Linked DNA regions of Homo sapiens: regions 2 and 3 are each linked to region 1. The links come from fine-mapping of genetic effects on gene expression. A gene starts in region 1. Each other region holds a variant in brackets. All regions are shown on one strand. Distances are between the middles of the regions.

Region 1 (2,763 bases):
CCCAGGGTGACACAGTCACCTACACAAACACATGGCTCTTCCTACCAAACCCAGGAACATGCACATGCACAGATGTACTGGCCTCACATACCTCCCCATGTGGGAAAGAGAGGATGCCCGGGCAGCCAAGTGGTTTGGTGGACATGCAGGACACCACATGGCACTTCCCAGGCCTAGAGCTTCTAGCTCTGTCTCTGGAGGGGAAGGAAGAGGATGTGTTTTCCTGGGGTTTGAGTGAAGTTCTGAAAGGTTTGTTGGGGGTTGAAGGATTCAGTTGTAAGAATAATCTCAGTACATGATTTGGTGTGGGGAGAGAGGGCTGACCCAGCACTAACTAAAGCCTCCCTACAGGGGCCAGGTGCTGGAGCCATAAGGTCTCTTGGAAACCAGACTGGGCAGCTGAACACTAAAGTCCCTCCTTGGGTCCACCTGGGCTATTTGTGGAAAAATTGGTGAAGGAGTGGGGTGTACTAAAGACCCCTATCTGTACCAGGAAGCCAGAGAGGCAGCAGGGATGAGACACGTCATAGACACTCACAGAGCCCCGCTGCAGACATCACCACATGAAAGTACACAACTAGCACTGAACACTAATCTCACAACCACAAAACACAACACAACCTACTTTAACAAATTCTTGCCCAGAGGGCTTATGGTCATGAAGGCTTACAAAGAGACAAGCCACCCTAAAGTAGAGCCCTGACACATTCTGGTAGTTACACACCACTTCATACAGAATTACACACTCACAACACATCGTTGCACATAGAGACACATGGTCAAAACAACTTCATCAGTACAACCAGGGTCCTACGCAAACTCAAACATCTGACGAGACCATACAATTGCACTGCCACATACAATCACACTCACCCTAGCTGTCACCAAGCCCAGGGCACATGGCAACCAGCTGTGGGAGGTGCGCGCGCACACACACACACACACACAGAATGACAGGTGCTCACGCACGTAACACCTCCCACTCCAGACACCCTCTCAGCCCTGTGTCACATACGCCCACACCTGCTGCCTCTCCACACCTGCCTCTTCTGTTCCTCCCCAACCCCTGCGGGACCCAAGGCTTTGAACCCCCAGTGTCCTGCCGCCCAGACCGGCCATAAGAGTGCCTGGGAATGGGGCAGAGTGTGGGTGCGGGCCAGGCCGGGGTCGGAGAGGCGGAAGGGTCTGGAGGAATGGAATCCACCCTCCCTCCCGCGACCCCCACGTCACTGACTCACCCGTGAGCTGGTCGTAGGAGCCGTCCAGGTCTCGGGAATCGGACAAACTCTCCTTGCGGCCCTGGCCCCGCATGGCCCCCGGCGCCCCGCTCCCGCCCGGGCCGTGGGAGGGGGCGCCGGGTGGCCGGGATAGGGCGCTCACACGGCGCCCCCTGGCGGCCTACTGTGCTGTCGGGGCTGGGGAAGTCCGGGCTGAGGCTGAGTCTGGGAATGGGCCCGGGGTCTGAGGTCTACCCGGAGGTCCTGGAGCAGGAGAGGGAACACTAGGCAGCAGGTGAGCGCAGAGCCGGAGGCAGAGCGGAGCTGAGCGCGGAGCCGAGCCGAGCTGCCTCTCTCCTCCCGCCCCCTCCCCGCGGCTGTCACCGCCTCCTCCCCTCTTTGGCGCTGCCGGGATTGGCTCCCCCTACCCCCGCCCCCCACCCTTTGCAGCCCGGGGGAGGCACCCGGTGAAAGGGTGAACTGCAAAGTGCGGGGAAGGAGACTAGCTCCCCAGCAATCTGCCCCTAAAGCAGAAGTCACGGGGCTTGGCGGGGGGGGGGGGTGGGGGAGGAGGAGAGCGCGGGACAGAAGAGCCCCACTGAGAGGAGGAAACCCCGCCCCCAATTCTCAGGCACCCCGTCCCCCTTCGTCAACACAGTTCTGGCTGAGGCAGAGCCTGGGGTATCATATCTGAGTCCCCGCTCCGTTTGTCTCCATGTCAGCCTGTATTTTCTCTGTTGTTCCTCCTCCCGTGTATGCGTCTCTCGTGGTCCCAGACAGTCCCCACCGTGCTTAAAGCAGGTTAGGGATGCAAAGGAAGAGTCAACCCAGCCTCTAATATTAGCAGGCTCATCGTGGGCCAATGGACTACTGTTTCATCTTCTCTCAAGTTCCAGAAGGACCCCAACTCTCACCCACTCCAGGACCCCGTCTCTGGAACCTATTCACTCTCAGGGTGCCTCCTTCACTGATCTAATGAACCCCATAGGCCGACTAGGAAGATAAAAAAACTAGTGAACCAGGTCAGTTTCTCAAGACATCCTTGCTCTTTTGTTCCTCCCCTGCAGCAACTTTTCTGCCCTTCTCTTTTGTCACCTGTCCTGTCCTAGATTCCTTGTTTTCCAGCAGATATGGGGAGCAACTGACAGGTTTGGGGATCCAAGTCAGGATACAGAGTAGGAAAGAAATGCCCTTGTTATGAAACCCCTTCCTTAAGATTAGCTCCTTTCCAAAGGCAGGGCTAGCACGGAAGCTGGGCTGCCTCATCTCCCAGGAATGGATCCTGAGTGTTTTGAGCGTCACAGGTCTGACCTTCCTCAGGATGCTTCCTGGGCTCCACACCCAAAAGCCCCCCAACCCGTTGCTATGAGGATGAGGGGACCTTGTCTGGTGGGTCCAAAGGAGTGACCTGTTAAGACCAAAAACTTTAAAGTGACTCAAGCACACTTAATCTCTTCAATTGGCTTTAATTTCCAACCACTTGATTTAATCAACCCAGCAGGAATTGTGGCGGGAGTTCAGGCCTAAGAGGGGGACAAGTGGCTGA
Region 2 (2,763 bases), 21 kb after region 1:
TAGTTTTTAACTCAGTTATATTCATAAATAAGTTCAATGTAATACTCCAATTAAAAGGCAGGGACTTTCAGATTGGACATAAAATCAAGAGCCAATTATACAAGTTGCCCAAAATAAATCCACTTAAGCCAGGCGCGGTGGCTCATGCCTGTAATCCCAGCACTTTGGGAGGCAGAGGCGGGTGGATCACCTGAGGTCGGGAGTTCGAGACCAGCCTGACCAAGATGGAGAAACCCTGTCTCTACTAAAATTACAAAATTAGCCTGGCATGGTGGCGCATGCCTGTAATCCCAGCTACTCGGGAGGCTGAGGCAGGAGAATAGCTTGAATCCGGGAGGCGGAGGTTGCGGTGAGCCAAGATCACGCCACTGCACTCCAGCCTGGGCAACAAGAATCTACCTAAAATATAAAGACACAGATTGAAAGTAAAATGATAGAAGAAAGTTGAATTGCTATATTAATATCTGACAAAGGAAACTTAAAAACAAGAAATAGTATCAGGAATATAGAGCAAAATTTTGTAATGATAAAGAGGTCTATTCATTATGAAGACGTAACAAACCCATACATACATGCATCTAAAAACAGTTTCAAAACTTTGAATGAAACAAAATCGATAGGCTAAAGAAGAAACAGAAAAACATATAGTTACAAGTTGAAGGTTTCCATACTACTTTCAGTAACTAATAGAACAAATAGGTAACCCTAAACAATATGGGTTTGAACTGTGTGGGTCCACTTATATGCAAATTTAAAAATATACATATATATTAGAAAGGTTTTTGAAGATTTGGAACAATTTGAAAAATCTCGCAAATTGTGTATCTTAGAAATTTTGAAAAAATTGGTTGTGCATGGTAGCTCGTGCCTGTAAATCCCAGCACTTTGGAAGGCCGAGGTGAGAGGATCGCTTGAGCCCAGGTGTTCAAGACCAGCCTGGGCAACATAGTGAGACTCCATCTCTTAAAAAATAAAATAAAATTAAGGCCAGGCACAGCGGCTCACACCTGTAATCCCAGCACTTTGGGCTGCCAAAGAGGTTGTATCACAAGGTCAAGAGTTCGAGACTGGCCTGGCCAATATGGTGAAACCCTGTCTCTACTAAAAATACAAAAATTAGCTGGGTGTGGTGACACTTGCCTGTAGTCCCAGCTGCCCAGGAGGCTGAGGCAGGAGAATCACTTGAACCCAGTAGGCAGAGGCTGCAGTGAGACAAGATAGTGCCACTACACTCCAGCCTGGGCAACAGAGCAAGACTCCATCTCAAAAAAAAAAAAAAA[A/C]AAACACACACACACACACACACACACACACAAAAACCAGACAATTCTCAAAAGAAGACACATGAAAAAATGCTCATCATCAGTGGCCATCAGAGAAATGCAAATCAAAACCACAATGAGATACCATCTCATACCAGTTAGAATGGCGATCATTAAAAAGTCAGGAAACAGGTGCTGGAGAGGATGTGGAGAAACAGGAACACTTTTACACTGTTGGTGGAACTGTAAACTAGTTCAACCATTGTGGAAGACAGTGTGGCGATTCCCTAAGGATCTAGAACAAGAAATACCATTTGACCCAGCCATCCCATTACTGGGTATATACCCAAAGGATTATAAATCATGCTACTATAAAGACACATGCACACGTATGTTTATTGCGGCATTATTCACAATAGCAAAGATTTGGAACCAACCCAAATATCCATCAATGATAGACTGGATTAAGAAAATGTGGCACATATACACTATGGAATCCTATGCAGCCATAAAAAAGGATGAGTTCATGTCCTTCGTAGGGACATGGATGAAGCTGGAAACCATAATTCTGAGCAAACTGTCTCAAGGACAGAAAACCAAACACCGCATGTTCTCACTCATAGGTGGGAATTGAACAATGAGAACACTTGGACACAGGTTGGGGAACATCACACACTGGGGTCTGTTGCAGGCTGGGGAGAGGGGGAAGGGATAGCATTAGGAGAAATACCTAATGTAAATGACGAGTTAATGGGTGCAGCACACCACATGGCACATGTATACATATGTAACAAACCTGCACATTGTGCACATGTACCCTAGAACTTAAATTTAAAAAAATCAGGACTTTACAAACTCTCAATTAAAAGCCCTGACGCAGCTCAAAAAAAAAAATTTTTTTTTAATTATATTAAAGCTTTGGGAGGCCGAGGCGGGCAGATCACAAGGTCAGAAGATCGAGACCATCATGGCTAACATGGTGAAACCCCGTCTCTACTAAAAATACAAAAAATTAGCCAGGCATGGTGGTGGGCGCCTGTAATCCCAGCTACTCGAGAGACTGAGGCAGGAGAATGGCATGAACCCGGGAGGCAGAGCTTGCAGTGAGCTGAGATTGCGCCACTGCACTCCAGCCTGGGCGACAGTGTGAGACTATGTCTCAAAAAAAAAAAACAAAAACAAACAAACAAACAAAAAGAGTAAGAAAACATTAAATATGTAATGAACACGTAAGATATACATAGAGAGTATTTTATCATTTACTACCATAAAATATACACAAGTCTATTATAAAAAGTTAAAATTTACAAAACTCATGCACACAAACACCACACATGGCACCATTTGCAGCTGAGAGAAATGTAAGCAAACGTAAAGAGGCAGTATTAAATTATAACTGTATAAAATTAACTGTAGTACCTACTGTACTACCGTAATTTTTTTTTCTTTTTTGAGACAGAGTCTCACTCTGTTGCCCAGGGTAGAGGGTAGTGGCATGATCTTG
Region 3 (2,763 bases), 910 kb before region 1:
TAAAGAGATTATGAAGAAAGGGATAATGTAGATAGTTGTACAGGACAGTCAGTGTTAGTTGTGCCTGAACCCTTCACCACAGTGATAAATCACTATTATAGTTAGTTTTAGAAGGGATCTTCTAATGCTTACATACCTAAATTTCTTTTTAACCTTTTTTCATGTTTATGGTGGTACCTATATACATTTTCAGAATTTTAATTGTATGCTAATATTTCCCCATTCGTATATATGGTTTTTTTTTTGGATGCAAATCCAACCAAGTGTTTCTTTTCCCCATTCATATTTAACGCTTAAATCCACTTAAATAATTATCTTAAATTTAAGATATGATAATTCCAGAAAGTTAACTCAATTGGTAACTTTTTAAATATCAGTGGTATCATTGATGCTTATGTATGGAGTTCTGGTGTTACTCTAGATACTTCGGACCTTCATGCAGATAAATGTAGAAGTTTCTTACTCTTGACATTTGTATCAGCCAGGAGTGGTGGCTCATGCCTGCAATCCCAGCACTTTGGGAGGCCGAGGCAGGTGGATCATGAGGTCAGGAGCTGGAGATCAGCCTAGCCAACATGGTGAAACCCTGTCTCTACTAAAAATACAAAAATTAGCCAGGTGTGGTGGTGGGCACTTGTAATCCCAGCTACTCAGGAGGCTGAGGCTGGAGAATTGCTTGAACCCAGGAGGTGGAGTTTACAGTGAGCCAAGATTGCTCCATTGTACTGCAGCCTGGGGGACAGAGTGAGACTCTGTCTCAAAAAAAAAAAAGACATTTATATGGGAGGGCATGGATGGGGCTTTTTCCAGTATAAAAGCTTCTGTATCAACAAGTACTATAGTAACTACTCAGTTAGATTGGAATTATGCTTCTTTCAAAGACGAGAACGATTATGAATGACAAGTTATTCTTCGCAGTGGCTCATGCCTGTAATTCTAGCACTTTGGGATACCAAGGCAGGAGGATTACTTGAGACCAGGAGTTTGAGATCAGCCTGGGCAACATAGCAAGACCACATCTGTTTAAAAAAAAAAAAATTATTCTCAGGTTACTGAGTGTTCCACTTTAATAAAATCCTAAATGTGTGAAAAATATACATTCAGGAAAAAGGAATCGTAGTATAAAAGAGTCCTTTATAATATGTGAGTATTGGCCCCAGAAATCCTATAACAAAAAGGAAAAAAGTATCAATGGTGTCAGAGAACTACAGCTATTATATATAAAGTGAAAAGTGGGAAAAACATGGAGTTTCTACTCTGGGTTTTATGATAGCATTTCAAGAAATCTCGTATTTGGTGAGAACTGGAGAGATATTCCAGTACAGACTTTCGTTCATTGTTTTATATAGTTGGCATTTTGAGTGCCAGCTGTGCCAGGCACTGGAGAGAACAGCAATGAAAAAATCAGTGTCTCTGATCTCATGAAGCCCACATGCTAATGTAGAGGAGACAAACAATAAGTGTGTGTGTGTGTGTGTGTGTGTGTG[T/TGTGTGC]GCGCGCGCGCGCGCGCGCACATTTGTAAATGTATTGTGTCAGATGATAAGTGCTATGAAGAAAACGTAGGGTAAGGTAGATACAGAGAGTACCGGGGTGAGAGAGAAAGTTTGCTTTTTTAAAGTGTAAAGTAGTTGAAGGTCTTGCGGTTAAGGTAAGATCCAAGTAAAGGAGTAGCTTGTCAATGTCACTCCTAAAGTGTTCCCTCACTGCCTCCACTAAAGATACGTGGACACATGCTCCAGATAAGGTCTGTCTTACCAGCAGTTTTCAGTGAGACTCTTGCCCATCTGAAGAAACCTACAAATTTCTACTTATTATAGTTCAAAACTAATCATGCCACTGTACTCCAGCCTGGGGAACAGAGAAAGACCCCATATCAAAAAAACAAACAAAAAATTTCCTTTACTGTTATGCCAGGGCTTCATTATTCTCTAATTGTGTATATCATTTCTTAAACCTCCAAGTAAGACTTTGCATTTATCTATGTTAATTTGCCTCTTGTTGATGTGGGCCCATTGTTATAGCCATTCAAACCCTAATTATGACATACAAGCATACCTTCATTTAAGCAGTTTTTTAATACATTTCATATTTATTTTCTGAAAACCAGACTAATCATTCATTAAACACTTTCCCTGTGTAAGACACTGTCTCATTTCTCCTTTTTTGATTCCAAGTCCGTTTTCATCGTGGGAGGCTTTACCAACTTGTAAGTAGTTTTTAGAAATTATGTCAATTCATTTTAATGCTATACTCCTAACCAGTATTTTGTAAGTTTAATGTTAAAATGTAATTAAAATCCTTGCATTTTTGTGATTTTATCATGAGTGTCTAAATGTAGTAGACCAGAAAAAGGTTAGTACTTTTTTTTTTTAACAATTTTCAAAAGGAATTCAGGTTTGATTATGAAAAGTTCAAGTAAAATGGAAAGGAGATTAAAATTTATTTATTTATTTGTTTGTTTGTTTATTTTTGAGAGAGAGTCTCACTTGGTCACCCAGGCTGGAGTGCAGTGGCGTGATCTCTGCTCACTACAACCTCCGCCTCCTAGGTTCAAGCAATTCTCCTGCTCAGCCTCTCAAGTAGCTGGGATTACAGGCCTGTGCCACCACACCTGGCTAATTTTTCTATTTTTAGTAGAGATGGGGTTTTACCATGTTGGTCAGGCTGGCCTCGAACTCCTGGCCTTAAGTGATCCACCCACCTCGGCCTCCCAAAGTTCTGGGACTACAGGCGTGAGCCACTGCACCCAGCCTAAAATATTTTTAAAAA

Which allele goes with the higher level. Alleles are on the strand shown, and positions count from the first base shown. SD is a standard deviation of normalised expression in the study named. Not every link is listed here.
For the expression in skeletal muscle of the gene that starts at base 1,543 in region 1, T is the high allele of the variant in region 3 and TGTGTGC is the other (large effect, 0.86 SD a copy in FUSION).

Evidence for each region. PIP is the estimated chance that this variant, and not a neighbour inherited with it, causes the effect. A credible set is the group of variants that fine-mapping cannot tell apart.
Region 2: its variant is the best candidate, but not a certain one, in a credible set for the expression of KCNIP2 in whole blood (INTERVAL, PIP 0.57).
Region 3: its variant is the best candidate, but not a certain one, in a credible set for the expression of KCNIP2 in skeletal muscle (FUSION, PIP 0.65).

Annotation. Positions count from the first base shown.
Region 1 is chr10:101,842,258-101,845,020 of GRCh38, forward strand. It overlaps KCNIP2 (potassium voltage-gated channel interacting protein 2), which reads right to left and starts at 1,543. Exons shown (of 10, transcript NM_173191.3): 1 at 1,239-1,543. The coding sequence starts at 1,311. RefSeq lists an enhancer at 1,055-1,560 and a silencer at 1,516-1,765.
Region 2 is chr10:101,862,796-101,865,558 of GRCh38, forward strand. All of the region lies in intron 24 of ARMH3 (armadillo like helical domain containing 3), which reads right to left. The region is part of intron 2 of LOC101927445 (a long non-coding RNA gene); the gene reads left to right. Among named protein-coding and RNA genes, the nearest start is that of KCNIP2, 20 kb to the left of the region's middle. The variant A/C (reference allele first, on the strand shown) is at 1,281.
Region 3 is chr10:100,931,233-100,933,995 of GRCh38, forward strand. All of the region lies in intron 9 of SLF2 (SMC5/6 complex localization factor 2), which reads left to right. Among named protein-coding and RNA genes, the nearest start is that of SLF2, 20 kb to the left of the region's middle. The variant T/TGTGTGC (reference allele first, on the strand shown) is at 1,488.